Homo sapiens: one gene and its partner. The protein of the gene in region 2 purifies or fractionates together with the protein of the main gene of each other region. This does not show direct contact. Each region holds a gene or a part of one and is shown on either strand. Other genes may lie near its edges.

Region 1 (7,814 bases), on a different chromosome or scaffold from region 2:
CCCATTTCTCATTTGGGTTTGAATGCACTACAGGCTGAGTATTCCTTATCTGAAATGCTTGGGACCAAAAATGTTTTGGATTTTCATTTTTGTTTTTTCCTGGATTTTGGAATATCTGTATTATATTCAGCATCCCTAACCTGAAAATCCAAAATCTGAAATGCTCCAATGAGCATTTCCTTTGAATTTTATGGAGCTCAAAGAGTTTCATATTTTGGAACATTTCAGATTTCTGAATTAGGGATACTCAACTTATATGACAATATGATCCAACAAAGTGGCCTAGCCTCCTAGTCCTCATGGGCTGCTGCTGATTGTAGAAGACCCAACAAAGTCAGAAAAATACAGAAACATGAGTAAGTAACCTTAAGACATGAAAAAGCCAGGCTGTGTCCTAGTCCCAAAAGGCACACTGATCCCTTTGCAGATAAACCTAACCAGGTATGAATCAGAAAGAATAGAATTTTATCAAATAGTAAAATAACTTCATTCATGAAAATTTCAACTGCCTTAAATTTTTTACCAGACATTTTAATGCCACCCATATAAATCTTTGCCTAAAGAAATAAGACATGTATATAGAAAAACCAGCAAACTAAAATAACAGAAAAATGGGGCCGGGCGCAGTGGCTCACACTTGTAATCCCAGCACTTTGGGAGGCCGAGGCGGGCAAACCATGAGGTTAGGAGTTCGAGACCAGCCTGGCAAACATGGTGAAACCCCATCTCTACTAAAAATACAAAAAAATTAGCCAGGTGTGGTAGCACATGCCTGTAATCCCCGTTACTCAGGAGGCTGAGGCCAGAGAATTGCTTGAACCCAGGAGGTAGAGGTTGCAATGAGCTGAGATCGCGCCACTGCACTCCAGCCTGGGCGACAGAGCAAGACTCAGTTTCAAAAAAAAAAAGGAAAATGGAAGCCCCCTACATTGGACCAAAGGAAGTCTGCAGCTTTTACATTAAGCAGACTTTACACTCAATTAGGTTCACCTAGTCTGTTTTTCTTCTCATCTTGGGAAACTAGCCATTTCCAGACATCTCTTCGTCCATATAATTGAAGAAACTAATGTCTAATAGGTAAAACCCTGTTTCTGTAATCTCAGGTGTAAATTCAAGCCAAGCAGCCTAGGGTATATATAATTTCTCAAAATGTGGTTCTTGACCACCAATCACCTAGATTCCCGGTCCCCACCTTATCCATTTGGGAAATAAAGTCCAGCAGTCAGCATTCTTCCAAGCTTCACTTCTAATCATTCTTTTAAGGCAGTTCTTATGCAAACTGAAATTTGAGAAGAACTAGTACCTCCAGTAAAGCTCTTTTTACTTAATTTGGAAAATATTCCTCTATCAGAAGGATTCAAGGCTGGGTGCACTGGCGCACGACTGTAATCCCGGCACTCTGGGAGGCTGAAGTGGGTGAATCACCTAAAGTCAGGAGTTCGAGACCAGCCTGGCCAACGTGGCAAAACCCTGTCTCTACTAAAAATATAAAAATTAGCCAGGCATGGTGGTGTGCCTGTAACAGCTACTCAGGAGGCTGAGGCATGAGAATCGCTTGAACTTGGGAGGTGGAGGTTGCAGTGAGCCGAGATTGGGCCACTGCACTCCAGGCAACAGGGCAAGACTCTGTCTCAAAAAAAAAAAAAAAGAAAAAAAAAGCATTCAAAGTAAAAAAAATTCTTATAGAAACAAAGAAATAAAAAACCAGGCATGGTGACTCACACCTGTAATCCCAGCACTTTGGGAAGATCATGAGGTGAGCAGTTCGAGACCAGCCTGGCTGGCATGGTGAAGGCCCTGTCTCTACTAAAAATACAAAAATTAGCCAGGCATGATGGCACGCACCTATAGTCCCAGCTACTCGGGAAGCTGAGGCAGGAGAATCACTTGAACCCGGGAGGCGGAGGAGGTTGCAGTGAGCCGAGATTGTGCCACTGCACTCCAGTCTGGGCGACAGAGCAAGACTCTGTCTCAAAAAACAAAACAAACAAACAAAAAAAGAAAACAAAGAAATAGGAATTTGATTTCCTTTTAACATCGTAAAAGCAACTGAGTAAACTTCTAGTTTCAAGTACATAGTCAGGAAAAATGAATAAAAAGTAAGGAGTTACCTGGTCCAATTTACGTTTCAATGTGGATACTTCCTTGGGGTTAGAAAAAGTGATATCCAATCCAGGTGAGATCGCATAGATGAACTCTATCTCATATTCTCGTGCAGCAGAGATGAGAGTCATAAGTTGCTCTAAAGAACAGAGTCTATGTTTTTAGAAAGCAGAACAGAAAACTAAAAGAACCTTCACTGAAGGTTTAACTGAAGAGGTTATTTCTTCTAACTTACAAGAAAGGAAAAGATCCTCACATTTTACAAATTGTCATGTCCAACTTAACAACAGGCCATACAAAATGGTACAAGCCTGAAGTGATTTAATGTCACAGTAAGGGAAAAAGAATAGTTTTCACACCTTTGAAATCTGAACCAACAGAAAATAAGAGGCCCTTCTTTTTCACTTCCAAATAGTTTCTTATCCTTTTGGGGAAACAGGCTAAAATCAATAAACATTTTCCTCCCTTTCATTGCCACTTCTCAAAAACACTGAATTGTCAATTCTCTTACTGAACTTAAGCCATTTCTATTTCCTGCAGCATTTGAAAGGCATAAAATGCAGCCGCTGCTTTTTTATTTTGAGAGCCTTGCTCTGTTGCCCAAGGCTGGAGTGCAGTGGCACGATCCTGACTCACTGCAACCTCCACCTCCTGAGTAGGTGGGATTACAGGCATACCCGGCTAATTTTTGTTTAGTAGAGATGAGGGTTTTGCCATATTGCCCAGGCTGGTCTCGAACTCCTGGCCTCAAGTGATCCGCCTGCCTTAGCCTCTTACAGTGTTGGGATTGCAGGCATGAGCCATGGTACTGGATCTTGCTTTTTTTTTTTGTTTTGCCATCTCTGAACAGCTGGAATTCCTAACTAAATAAACCTACACATAACTACTTTATAATATGAAAGAAAGAAAATGCTTTCTTAAGAATCAGGGTAGGCCAGGCCCAATGGCTCATGCCTGTAACCCCAGGACTTTGGGAGGCCAGGCAGGAGGACTGCCTGAGGTCAGGAGTTTGAGACCAGCCTGGTCAACATTGTGAAACCCCATCTCTACTAAAAATACAAAAATTAGCCAGGCGTGGTGGCGCATACTTGTAATCCCAACTACTAGGGAGGCTGAGGCAGGAGAATTGCTTGAACCCTGGAGGCAGAGGTTGCAGTGAGCCAAGATCGCACCACTGCACCCCAGTCTGGACGACACAGCAAGACTCCATCTCAAAAAATGAAAAAAAATGAAAAAAAAAAAAAAAAAAAAAAAAAATGAATCACACCTGTAATCCCAGCACTTTGAGAGGCCACGGCAAGTTGACTGCTTGAGTTCAGGAGTTTGAGACCAGCACAGGCAACATGGCAAACCCCTCTCTCTACAAAATATACAAAAATTAGCTGGGTGTGGTGACCCGCGCTTGTAGTCCCAGCTACTTGGGGGACTGAGGCGGGAGGATTGCTTGAGCCGGGGAGATCAAAATTGCAGTGAGTCACTGCACTCCAGCCTGGGTAACAAAGTGACAAACGCTGTCTCCAAAAAAAGAAAAAGAAAAAGAACCAGAGTTAAGTCATGGCCTTAACAATCTTGACCTGTTTCTATCTATGGGAAAAACATTAATTATAGATTTTAACCTTTTAAAATTATCAATTGACAATTTTCCTAAATCAACTTAACTACTACTAGTATATACTATAAGACATATTTTTGAATAATTTTCAGTAGTATCTCAAGATAGTCATTTTTACTCTATTTTGATTATTGATCACATTAAGTTTCATTACCAGCACCACCAGAAAGTAATTAAGTTGAAGGCACACTTAAATAGAGTAGTAAACCACAACACTAGATGGAGATGGGGTAAGCTGTAATTGCTTCTTTGTAATTCAAGAAAACTTTCAGCCTTCTGTGCCTTGGCTGGGCTCTGTAACCAAATATCTTGTTAGCTATATGCGTATACCATTTAATTTCAAGTACAAAAATGTTTCACCATTTACAAGTTCCCAAAGAAAAGCACCTCTCTAATTTGGCGGTTCAATGCTATACTACTTTTTATCAATTTTATGTAACCAACTCAACGTTAAGTATACCCATAGCAGGCCGGCCGGGCACAGGAGCTCAAGCCTGTAATCCCAGCACTTTGGGAGGCTGAGGCAGCAGAATCTCTTGAACTCGGGAGGGCGAGGTTTGCAGTTAGCCGAGATCGCACCACTGCACTCCAGCCTGGGGGACAGAGCAAGACTCTGTCTCAAAAAACAAAACAAAACAAAACAAAACCCAAAGACAGCCTATTAATGGCTTCCCACTTTCCTGGACTAGGGTTTAAGGACCAGTAACTGCTGACAAGGCCAAGCCATACTAGAGCCTGAAGCAAAAGGAACAATCAGTAGTGCTGATCCTGTCTTTACCTAAAATTTTAGCATTGTGTACATCATGAATTTCTGCATTAATTTTGGTTTTTTAAAAAAATTGCATAAAATATTATTTATGTTGATTACTTTTTGGGGGTCCCTTAAAATTTGCACCCAAGGTACGTGCCTCACTTGCCTTGCCCTGGGCCTAGCCCAGCTCCAGCACTTCTTTGCCCAGTGGCCCACTGTTTAATCCACTGGCAGAAGTAAGCAGCACAATCTATGACCACAGAACAGATGGAGTCAGCCTAGCACGCCCATGATATCACACATATGGTCATGACCTTGCTAGCGCAGAGCACTCTTTCAATCTCAGCTAACTGAATAGTTACCAGATAGAAGAAAAGGAAACTACCTACAAAATAAAAATAAAATGTCATAAAATTCTTGTACAACTACATTTAAAATATAACCGTTTTCTTCACAGATTTTGAATTTATGGATAAAAAGAAAAAGATTACCAGCTTCCTCCACTGAATACATCTCTCGCCAAAACATCCTATGTTTGTAGTCATCTTTTGGGGCATACAAGTATGTATTTAATTCCCATTTCTGGAGCCTTAAGGAGAAAGAAAATTACATATGTATAAACAGGCAACATTCATAGGCTGTCAATCTCCATTTCCCTCTTCTTGGAGCATCTCCATCTCATACAAAGCTAATATTCTATGACAGTAGCTTTTAACCTTTTTGTAATCAGTGGAATTTAAAAAAATTAAGTATTACAATGTATGCCAACATACAAAACACTCTTAAAAAACACAACAGCTCTGGGTAAGGTGAAGCCCAAAACTTATTCAGCTCCCCAGGAAAAGTTTGAAAATCAAAGGCCTAGGTGAAGAAAAAAGGGACCAAGGTAAAATAACTTCTGCAATTGAGAAACCATCAAAATGCACCTGGGCTATTCACTGTTAGTATTTCTTCAAACAAAAGAAAATGTTAAGAGTTTAAGGTTCTCCTCTCTCCTTCATATAATGAAGATTTACCTTCTAAAGAGTTCTTTTCTCTGTTCCATAACCCAAGGTCTTCCATAAAATCCTAGATTCAAAGTAAGAATGAAATTATATTCAGTTTTAAAATGTGGTAAGCTTTATTGAGAAAAGCAAGTTACAAAACATATAATACAATCCTATTTTGTAAAAAGCATAAAATACACCAAATCGGAAGGATATTTAATAAAATACTAAGGTTCCTTTAATCTTTGGGTGGTGACGTTACAAGGTGACTTTTATTCCATTTTTGCTTAGGTAATTTTTTTTATTTTTTCTACCATGACATTAGTTACTTAGGTGATAGTTATTTTAAAACAAACATCTATCATCTTTCCACTGTTGATAAAGTCCAAATATATTTAATTCCAATTTTTTAAGAGATCTCAATCTTATAATGGGGAACGGCAGCAATGTAATACAAGCTGCCAACAGTAACAATTACTTCCTAGAATGATAGTAAAACTGCTTTAGAAAGGGTGAGGGGAGGCCGGGTGAGGTGACCCACGCCTGTAATCCCAGCACTTTGGGAGGCTGAGGCAGGTAGATCACTTGAGGTCAGGAGTTCCAGACCCAGCCTGGCCAACATGGTGAAACCATGTCTCTACTAAAAATACAAAAATTAGCCAGGTATGGTGGCAAATGCCTGTAATCCCAGCTATTTGGGAGGCTGAGAAACAACAATCACTTGAACCTGGGAGACGGACTTGCAGTGAGCCGAGACTGCGTCACTGCACTACAGCCTGGGCTACAGAGCAAGACTCCATCTCAAACAACAACAACAAAAGGGTGAGGGGAGATAAACAGGTAAAGCAATTAAAAACAAATCAGAGATAGGATTAGGAAAGAATCTGACTTAATTTTATGATCGTGCTCCTCTTTTTTAAAAAAAGTTCCTGGCCAGGACTGGAATTCCAGTTACTTGGGAGGCTAGGGCAGGAGAACTGCTTGAATCCAGGAGGCGGAGGCTGCGGTGAGCCAAGATCCGCGCCATTGCATTCCAGCCTAGGTGACAGAGCAAAACTCTCTCTCTCAAAAAAAGTTCCACATACAATGATATAATCAAAGGGACCAAAAAATGCCTGAAACCACATTCCCAAGAAATTCAACAGCCTAACTGGCCCAAACAACAAACTCTCACGCAATCTTAATTACAGAGCAAAGATCTGAACAAATGAAAATTCAAGAATATTACTTCTGGTCCTTAAACGGAAAGGAATAAACAAAGAAAACTCAAGAATGTCCCCAGAGTATCCTCTAAGAGGACAAAACACTAGTTATGCACACACTGCAGAAAACAAACTCGCAGACCGATAACCTAAATGGTTGAATAAGCATCAAACTGGTATCTGGAACTCCCTAGTGTGCTCATCACAGCTCAAACCACACACTTTACATCTTGTCTAACCTTTACTTTCCACTTGTCTCAGTCTAATCATCAGTAAGAGATAAGGACAGCCTCTCAAGAGTACCATGAAGAAGGTTAATAAAAGCATTCTGAACACAAAATGTTCTACATAAACCCACACAATCTACATAAGAGACTAGTCTAAAACAAATTTCTGCAATGTATTTTAGCTCCAATCTCTAGGCAGAATGACTCCTCTGCACCACAAAAAGGACAATGACAGACCAAATTAAAATTCATTACATACCAATGTATAACTGTAGCACTTTCATCTGGACAATCTAATGTTAGCCTCTCACAAGTGATACAAAATATTCTTTTTTTTTTTTCTCAGGCGGAATCTCACTCTGTCGCCCAGGCTGGAGTGCAGTGGCACTATCTCGGCTCAATGCAATCTACGCCTCCAACTCCCGGGTTCAAGCGATTCTCCTGTCTCAGCCTCCCGAGTAGTTGGGATTACAGGAGCCCGCCACCACGCCCGGCTAATTTTTTCTATTTTTAGTAGAGACAGGGTTTCGCCATGTTGGCCAGGCTAGTATCGATCTCCTGACCTCGTGATCCGCCCGCCTCGGCCTCCCAAAGTGCTGGGATTACAGGCGTGAGCCACCGCGCCCGGCCAATATAAAATATTCTTGATCAGGCAGACCTATACAAGTCTTTAGCATCCCTACGGCACTTAGCATTATCATTTTTTTTTTAAGGAGTAGGCATTAAACATCCTTTCAGAGTTGCTCCAATATAAAAAAAGACTTTTCAAATGTCTAGCTTAATTAAACATTTTAATCTTTAGAAACCCTACCTTGGCTCTTTTGAGAGTCAGGTTCATGGTTTCGGTTGACTGGCACCACAAAGAGGAAGCAATGCTGTTAATGTAAGTTAAAAACCAAGAGAGTTTTGTGATGGAAAGAAAACAAAAAAGAA
Region 2 (7,814 bases):
TAGTTGAGTGGTTTTGAGTGAGTTTTTTAGTCCTGAGTTCTAGTTTCATTGCACTGTGGTCTGAGAGACAGTTTGTTATAATTTCTGTTCTTTTACATTTGCTGAGGAGTGCTTTACTTCCAACTATGTGATCAATTTTGCAATAGGTGTGGTGTGGTGCTGAAAAAAATGTATATTCCGTTGATTTGGGGTGGAGAGTTCTGTAGATGTCTATTAGGTCTGCTTGGTGCAGAGCTGAGTTCAATTCCTGGGTATCCTTGTTAACCTTCTGTCTCGTTGATCTGTCTAATGTTGACAGTGGGGTGTTAAAGTCTCCCATTATTATTGCGTGGGAGTCTAAGTCTCTTTGTAGGTCACTAAGGACTTGCTTTATGAATCTGGGTGCTCCTGCATTGGGTGCATATATATTTAGGATAGTTAGGTCTTCTTGTTGAATTGATCCCTTTACCATTATTTAATGGCCTTCTTTGTCTCTTTAGATCTTTGCTGGTTTAAAGTCTGTTTTATCAGAGACTAGGATTGCAACCCCTGCCTTTTTTTGTTTTCGATTTGCTTGGTAGATCTTCCTCCATCCCTTTATTTTGAGCCTATGTGTGTCTCTGCACATGAGATGGGTTTCCTGAATACAGCACACTGTTGGGTCTTGACTCTTTATCCAATTTGCCAGTCTGTGTATTTTAATTGGAGCATTTAGCCCATTTACATTTAAAGTTAATATTGTTATGTGTGAATTTGGTTCTGTGATTATGATGTTAGCTGGTTATTTTGCTTGTTAGTTGATGCAGTTTCTTCCTAGCCTTGACAGTCTTTACATTTTGGCATGTTTTTGCAGTGGCTGGTACCGGTTGTTCCTTTCCATGTTTAGTGCTTCCTTCAGGAGCTCTTTTAGAGCAGGCCTGGTGGTCACAAAATCTCTCAGCATTTGCTTGTCTGTAAAGTATTTTATGTCTCCTTCACTTATGAAGCTTAGTTTGGCTGGATATGAAATTCTGGGTTGAAAATTCTTTTCTTTAAGAATGTTGAATATTGGCCCCCACTCTCTTCTGGCTTGTAGAGTTACTGCCGAGAGATCTGCTGTTAGTCTGATGGGCTTCCCTTTGTGGGTAACCCGACCTTTCTCTCTGGCTGCCCTTAACATTTTTTCCTTCATTTCAACTTTGGTGAATCTGACAATTATGTGTCTTGGAGTTGCTCTTCTTGAGGAGTATCTTTGTGGCGTTCTCTGTATTTCCTGAATCTGAATGTTGGCCTGCCTTGCTAGATTGGGGAAGTTCTCCTGGATAATATCCTGCAGAGTGTTTTCCAACTTGGTTCCATTCTCCCCGTCACTTTCAGGTTCACCAATCCGACGTAGATTTGGTCTTTTCACATAGTCCCATATTCCTTGGATGCTTTGTTCGTTTCTTTTTATTCTTTTTTCTCTAAACTTCCCTTCTCACTTCATTTCATTCCTTTCATCTTCCATCACTGATATCCTACCAAACCCAAATAATTTTTTTTTGTAGTTTTAGTAGAGACGAGGTTTCACCATATTGGTCAGGCTGGTCTCGAACTCCTGACCTCAGATGATCCACCCGTCTCTGCATCCCAAGGTGCTGGGATTACAGGCATGAGCCACCATGCCCAGCCAAAATAAATCTTAATCACATTTTATGCCTAAAGTCCTGTGGAAGATAAGCTTCATTTTCTAAACATGTTTCTTTGATAAGAGTAGGGGTTAAGGCCAAGGGGAACTCATAATACCTAATATTAACTGATAAATTTAAGTAAGATGCACAAACAGTTCCAGTTGTAGGAATTATACACCAAGGACAGGGCTAGACTAAGGCTTAATAGTATTTAAGCCAGTATGAACAATGCTAAGCTTAAACAATTAGTTGTATGCCCCTATAACTAGGGACTATGCCATGTAGAAGATTTTGGCCACATCCAGTCCTAAGGTGTCACTCCATAAAATTGTGGAATATGGAATTTCAGAATGGCAATATATTTTACCTGATACAAGCATTCTTTCTACAAGTACTCTAACCTAGTGGTTATCTCATTCCTCTTTAAACATCACTGGTGATGGGTATCTATAATAATTATATCTGAGGTGATTATATAATTATTTGACTGCTCTGGCTGCTGGAACATTATTGTTTTTATTGACCCCAAGATCTGACTCTTTGCATTTGCACCACTGGACCAAGCTCTGCTTTCTGGAGCCACAGAGTTTAATGTTAATACATGACAGCTCTTGAAACATTTGGAAATGATTGTCATAACTCCTTTAAGTCTTCTCATTATCAGGCTAAACAGTACATGTTTCCCATATAATGGTTTTCACATTCTCTGCCATCTTGGTTGCCCTTCACTAAGCATACTCTAATAACTATCCTGGTGTATCCCTCTTAAAATATGGAACTCAGAAGTTCATCACTCTCAAATAGCCTTCTGTTGTTTTCCATGTGTTTTTACATTTTAGCCATGGGAATTATTATTTATCATCATAAATCAATTAGGAAACACTGAAATGCTTCATTTAAGCTTAATCATAGGTCTCTTCGGATACTCAAAATAAGCGTTTTGAGAGTCAATTTCCAAATTACTTCTACACAACCACAAGTTTTACTTCTATTAGCTAGAAACATGAAGGAGGAGGTATATTTCTTGATTGTGGGAGACACCCAATTCATAAAAGAAAGAAAAAAACAACAAAAAACCCTATCTATTACCCTATCTGTCTATATATAGATAGATAAAGAGGTATATACATCTTAGTCTAGAGCTCATGGGGTGAAAAAATTTAAAAAAATTAAAAAATTTTAAAAAGATGTATACATCTTTTTACGTGTATACTCTGTGGTACAGTTATGTCTTAATTCATAAATTTTGTTTTTGCAGTGTTTCCTTATTTAGACACATTAGCTTTACCATATTTCTTATCTCCCTCCATGTCTTTGCTCCCTGTCTTAGTTTCCCAATTCCAATGAATGGCCTCAACACCTGAACAGATTCTTTTCTGTCTCTCTTCTCCAACATGCTTTCTGTCACCAAATTCTTCAGATTTGCCTGTGAAATTTCATTTAAGTCTGGCTCCTCCAATTCCTTTAGAGTGTCATTACCTTGGTTTAAAGCTCTCATGCTGTCTTACTGAGACTTTTACCACAGGCTCGTACTGACCTATTTCCCATTTCACTCCTCTCTAACATATCTTCTAAACTGGAGATCTGATTTGACTCCTCTTCCAGTTAAAATCCTTCAGTGGTTCTCCAACTTGTACCTTAAATGCAAACTCTTGATATTGCCTGTGAATATTTCTAGTTTCATTTTCCTTCATTCCTATAACACTTTACCAGCATTCTGAACTACTTGCAGTTCCCAGAACTCTATTTGTTCTGTCACTTTCATCTAACTTTGCATAAACAGTAGTGATTATTTCCCCTCTATGGTCAATATTTCCTTGTCCTTTTAGTAAATTCCTATGTAGTTGTAGGGAGAATTGGGTACTTATTGCCCACTGCTCTCATGGCAGCTCTTCTGCATTGCTACTGGAGCACTTGTTTAGGATATAGTTAAATATCTGCTGAATGAACAAATCATTAAGCGTCTGTTTACTTGTCTGTCTTTGATATGGTTTGGCTGTGTCCCCACCCAAATCTTATCTTGAATTTTGGGTCCCACAATCCCCATGTGTCATGGGAGGGGCCTGGTGGGAGGTGATTTAATCATGGGGTGGTTACTCTCATACTGCTCATGCTGTTCTCATGATACTGAGTGAGTTCTCACGAGATCTGATGGTTTTATACGGGGCTTTCCCTTTCACTCAGCACTCATTCTCTCTCCTGCCACCCTGTGAAGAAGTTCCTTCTGCCATGATTGTAAGTTTCCTGAGGCCTCCCCAGCCATGCAGAACTGTGAGTGAATTAAACCTCTTTCCTTTAGAAACTACTCAGCCTCAGGCAGTTCTTTATAGCAGCATGAGAATGGGCTAACACAGTCTTCCTTGCTTGGCTCTGCATTCCAGAAAGATAGGGATTTTCTGTATGGTCATATTTGCTTCTCCAGCCCCTAGCAGAAGGCCTGGTACATACTAAAAGGTCAGTATATGTTATCTGAAGAATGTTGAAGAACAGTGAGGAACTGAAGTTCAGAGATCTTCCAAGGGTTCCAAGACAAGGTGGGAAGGAAGAGAGTCTGAATTAGAGTTCTGTGGTGGTAGGCCTTCAGTCTGCTGTCAGCCTAAAGCAGGTTGTATCTGTGTAATCCTGACTTGCTCCTGCATATTTCAGTGTATAGCTAATGTTATGAGAGAAAAGAGATCTGGCTCCCATTCTGCAATTTCAGTCCAGTTCAGGCTTTTAACATAACTGGAAATTGGCTAAGGTAGCCCATAAGCTGAGATCCTCAAATAAGAAGTTTCTACATCAGAATTTAGAATTTAATTTACCTCAAGGCTAAACTGACATTTCTTAGAATAGATGTTTATTAGATACCTCTTATGTGCTAGGCAGTGGTCTAGGCTTGCAATACAAAGGCAAATAAACATGAGTCCTTTACTTAAGGAGCTATCACTATATTACAAAGGGAGGGAAGAAATATGCATAGACTTTTCCTATAGAAATAAAAAGTAAAAGGAGGGCATATCAAGAAGAAAGCACAGTGGAAGCAAAAGCACAGGGTACAAGGGTACCTGCTGTGTTTGCTGCTTAGTGGGTACGTCATCCAGTGCATCTAGAGTATTGTAGGAAGTATGGTAAAGACTAGTGAAAGATGGGCCTGAGGCCGGGTACAGTGACTCATGCCTGTAATCCCAGCACTTTGGGAGGCTGAGGCAGGCGGATCACGAGGTCAAGAGATGGAGACCATCCTGGCTAACATGGTGAAACCCCGTCTGTATTAAAAACACAAAAAAACTAGCCGGGCATGGTGGCGGGCGCCTGTAGTCCCAGCTACTGGGGAGGCTGAGGCAGTAGAATGGCCTGAACCCAGAAGGTGGAACTTGCAGTGGGCCGAGATAGCGCCACTGCACTCCAGCCTGGGCGACAGAGCGAGACTGCATCTCAAAAAAAAAAAAAAAAAAAAAAAAAGAAAGAAAGATGGGCCTGAAATTGGAGGTTGTATCCAATTTGTGGAGGAACTTTAATGCCAGCCTATGACATAATGACTTCTTGTGATCCAGAGATTTGGTGTAACTTGATATAGTTTTGAAGGAAAGAAAGTTGCTGAGTGAAAATAAAACACTTGCAAGGGCTGCAAAAGACGCAATCAAAACAGAAACTATGTTTCATTTCAGTCAAGGCAAGGAAGTAAATTCAGTGTTCTAGAAAAGAGTAGAATATTTTCTTGACAAGAGAACAATAATTCCAGAGAACAGAAGAAGAAGGAAAATGGGGCTTGGTAGGGAACAGACAAGGAAGGAGGCAGGCTTTGTTGGGCAGACATGAAAAAAATGGGAAAAACAAGCTAATCCAAAGGGTTTAAAATTGGCATAGTGAAGGGATAATTCAGGGAAGAGAAAGGCAAGAATGTGGGAGGCAGACAGATTGGCCATGGACAGAATAAAAAACCCAGAGTTCCTGTTGGAAGTCTGGTAAAGTTAGAGAATTCTGAAGATTTCTTCCTTCCAGGTGTTAGAAAAAAGCTGGAGGAATTAGCACTAGGCTTCTGCTAGCATAGGAAGCTGGGCTTTTTGTACATTTTCCCTAAGATCCCATAATCTCATAACCATAATGCAGACTCTTGCAAATACTCATTTTCTCTATTTCCTCTCAAGAATTCACTTGGTCTTGGAAAAGAGTCCCAGTTGCTTAAAGTATACTAAGATGCTGTGGCCTGTTTTAATGAACTGTTCTCCGCTTATGTAATTGACCCAATTAAAAGATCACTTTAATATGACTAGAATTAGGCCAACTTAATGGGCTATTTGCGTTTGACTACTTGTATAGTTCTCTCAGGTAGTACATAATCTGCTGGATAGGACTGGAAGTAATAGAAATTTGGGGAAATTTAGAAAGGTTGTTGAACTATCAACTGTAATACCATTGGTTCTTTTTTTCTCTGCAACTGTGAAGATTTTCACTAGTGAAAACAAAAAAGGTGTAATTCCAACAGGAACTCTGAGTAGTTTTAATTAAATGCTAGTAACAATAGCAAATTTTGTTATAACAACCATAGAATCAGTGAATTTCTTCTTTAGAAGGACCCTTAAACATCATCTTGTTTCTCTCTATCCTGAGGCTTGAATCTACTCCATACCTTCCCCCTCTCCTGCCCCGGCCCAGTGAGCATTCAGTCATTTGGCATCCTTTTCCTTTTCTGCTTAGAATTTCAGAGGCAGCTGGTTCCATCATGAAATGGCATTGGCTGATAGGAAAAAGGTTTTGGATTTTTTTCTTAATGGTAAGCTGATGTGTAACCCTCAAGATTTCACTCCTTGATTCTGGTTTGACCCTTTGAAGCTATACTGAGTAAATCTAATCCTTCTTCCATGTGCCTTCCCTTCAGATATTTGAAGGAAATTCTCATATCTCTCCTGAAGTTTATCTTCTCCAGGCTAAATCTCTCTCCGGCTTTTTCAGTTGTACTTCAGATGGCATGTTTTCAAATCCCTTAAAAAATTTTTCTCTCTCTCCTTATTAAACGCACTCCAGCTTCACTTTTAAAATGTATCATTAGGTGTGGTCTGGCCAGTTTAGAGAACAACAGTTGTAATGTTCTAGAACATTATAGTTTTTTAATGATGCTAGATTTAATTATTTCTTTGGAAGCTATATCATTCTACTGACTCATATGAAACCTATTCCCCTTTTTTTTTCATATATTCCTAGCCAAAACTGAAAGAGGGGACATAAAAGGAGAAAAGTGAGAATTTGGGGGATTGAATATCCTACAATATTGACTAGTCTGCAACCAGGTCTTAATTTTCGGCCGAAATAAAGTCATACTATTTCTATATTTTATTTTTATCTATAATGAAAGAAGATAAAACTATTTTACTTCAGAAATATATGCCAGTTGCCTAAAATCTAGATGAGTAAATTCTAATTTGGAGTACACATTGGAATTACTGGGGAATATTTTTCTCAAAGATGTTATGACTGCCCCACCCCAGACTAACTAAATAAGCATCAGCAAGGATGGTGTCAAAGCATGCATAGCTTGGAAAAATTTCCCAGGTATGATGTATGTCCATGGTTATAAATTGCTACTTTAGATTCACTCAAAAATATATTTTTCTGTACTAACTTTGTGCTAGGCACTGTTGTAATCATACATGCTATCTCTAGCTATTTAAAAACAAGTACCTAAACAGAGGTAAACATATCACCAAGTAATTAAGTAGTCTATTTGCATGGTCACTTACCTTTAAATACCTGAGTGGCCCAGCGTCCTTGGAGCTCTGAAATGGGCATAATGGCTCCTAAGGGCTGAATCAAGCCTATGATTGCAAGAGTTGGCCTTTCCAGGTTAGGAGGGAAGACCTTTTTATACAGGGATATCTTGTTTTTGACCACTTTGACGGAATCTTCCAGAAATGGAAAGTCAAAGCTATAGCCTGTGGCAAAGATAACAGCATCAATGTCATCCTCCCTGGAGCCATCCTCAAATATGGCAGCTGTCTCCGTGAATTCCTTCACATTTCCTTTCACTTTCACCAAGCCAGAAATGATACGATTTGGCAGGTCATCATTTAAGGTTGGATGCTGACTCAGAGCTCTGTGAGTCGTGACAAAGATCAAGTGGAGAAATGAGAGAAAGAGAAATCAGTACCACATAAGTAAAATTTTGCTTTGGTGGAGGTAAACAGGATGCCAATAATCTTCCCCTTG

Evidence for each region. The genes of interacting proteins can lie anywhere in the genome.
Region 1: the proteins of FMO5 (region 2) and OGA purify together in Homo sapiens (affinity purification with mass spectrometry; 2 studies listed by BioGRID and IntAct, with this or other methods). This does not show direct contact.

Annotation. Positions count from the first base shown.
Region 1 is NC_000010.11:101,808,073-101,815,886, forward strand, and holds part of OGA (protein O-GlcNAcase), read right to left. Parts: exon of another isoform or gene 7,693-7,814; intron 5,535-7,692; coding exon 5,483-5,534; intron 5,056-5,482; coding exon 4,958-5,055; intron 4,235-4,957; exon of another isoform or gene 4,180-4,234; coding exon of another isoform or gene 4,176-4,179; intron 2,243-4,175; coding exon 2,112-2,242; intron 1-2,111.
Region 2 is NC_000001.11:147,193,804-147,201,617, forward strand, and holds part of FMO5 (flavin-containing monooxygenase 5), read right to left. Parts: intron 7,702-7,814; coding exon 7,349-7,701; intron 1-7,348. UniProt on the Homo sapiens protein: Acts as a Baeyer-Villiger monooxygenase on a broad range of substrates. Catalyzes the insertion of an oxygen atom into a carbon-carbon bond adjacent to a carbonyl, which converts ketones to esters.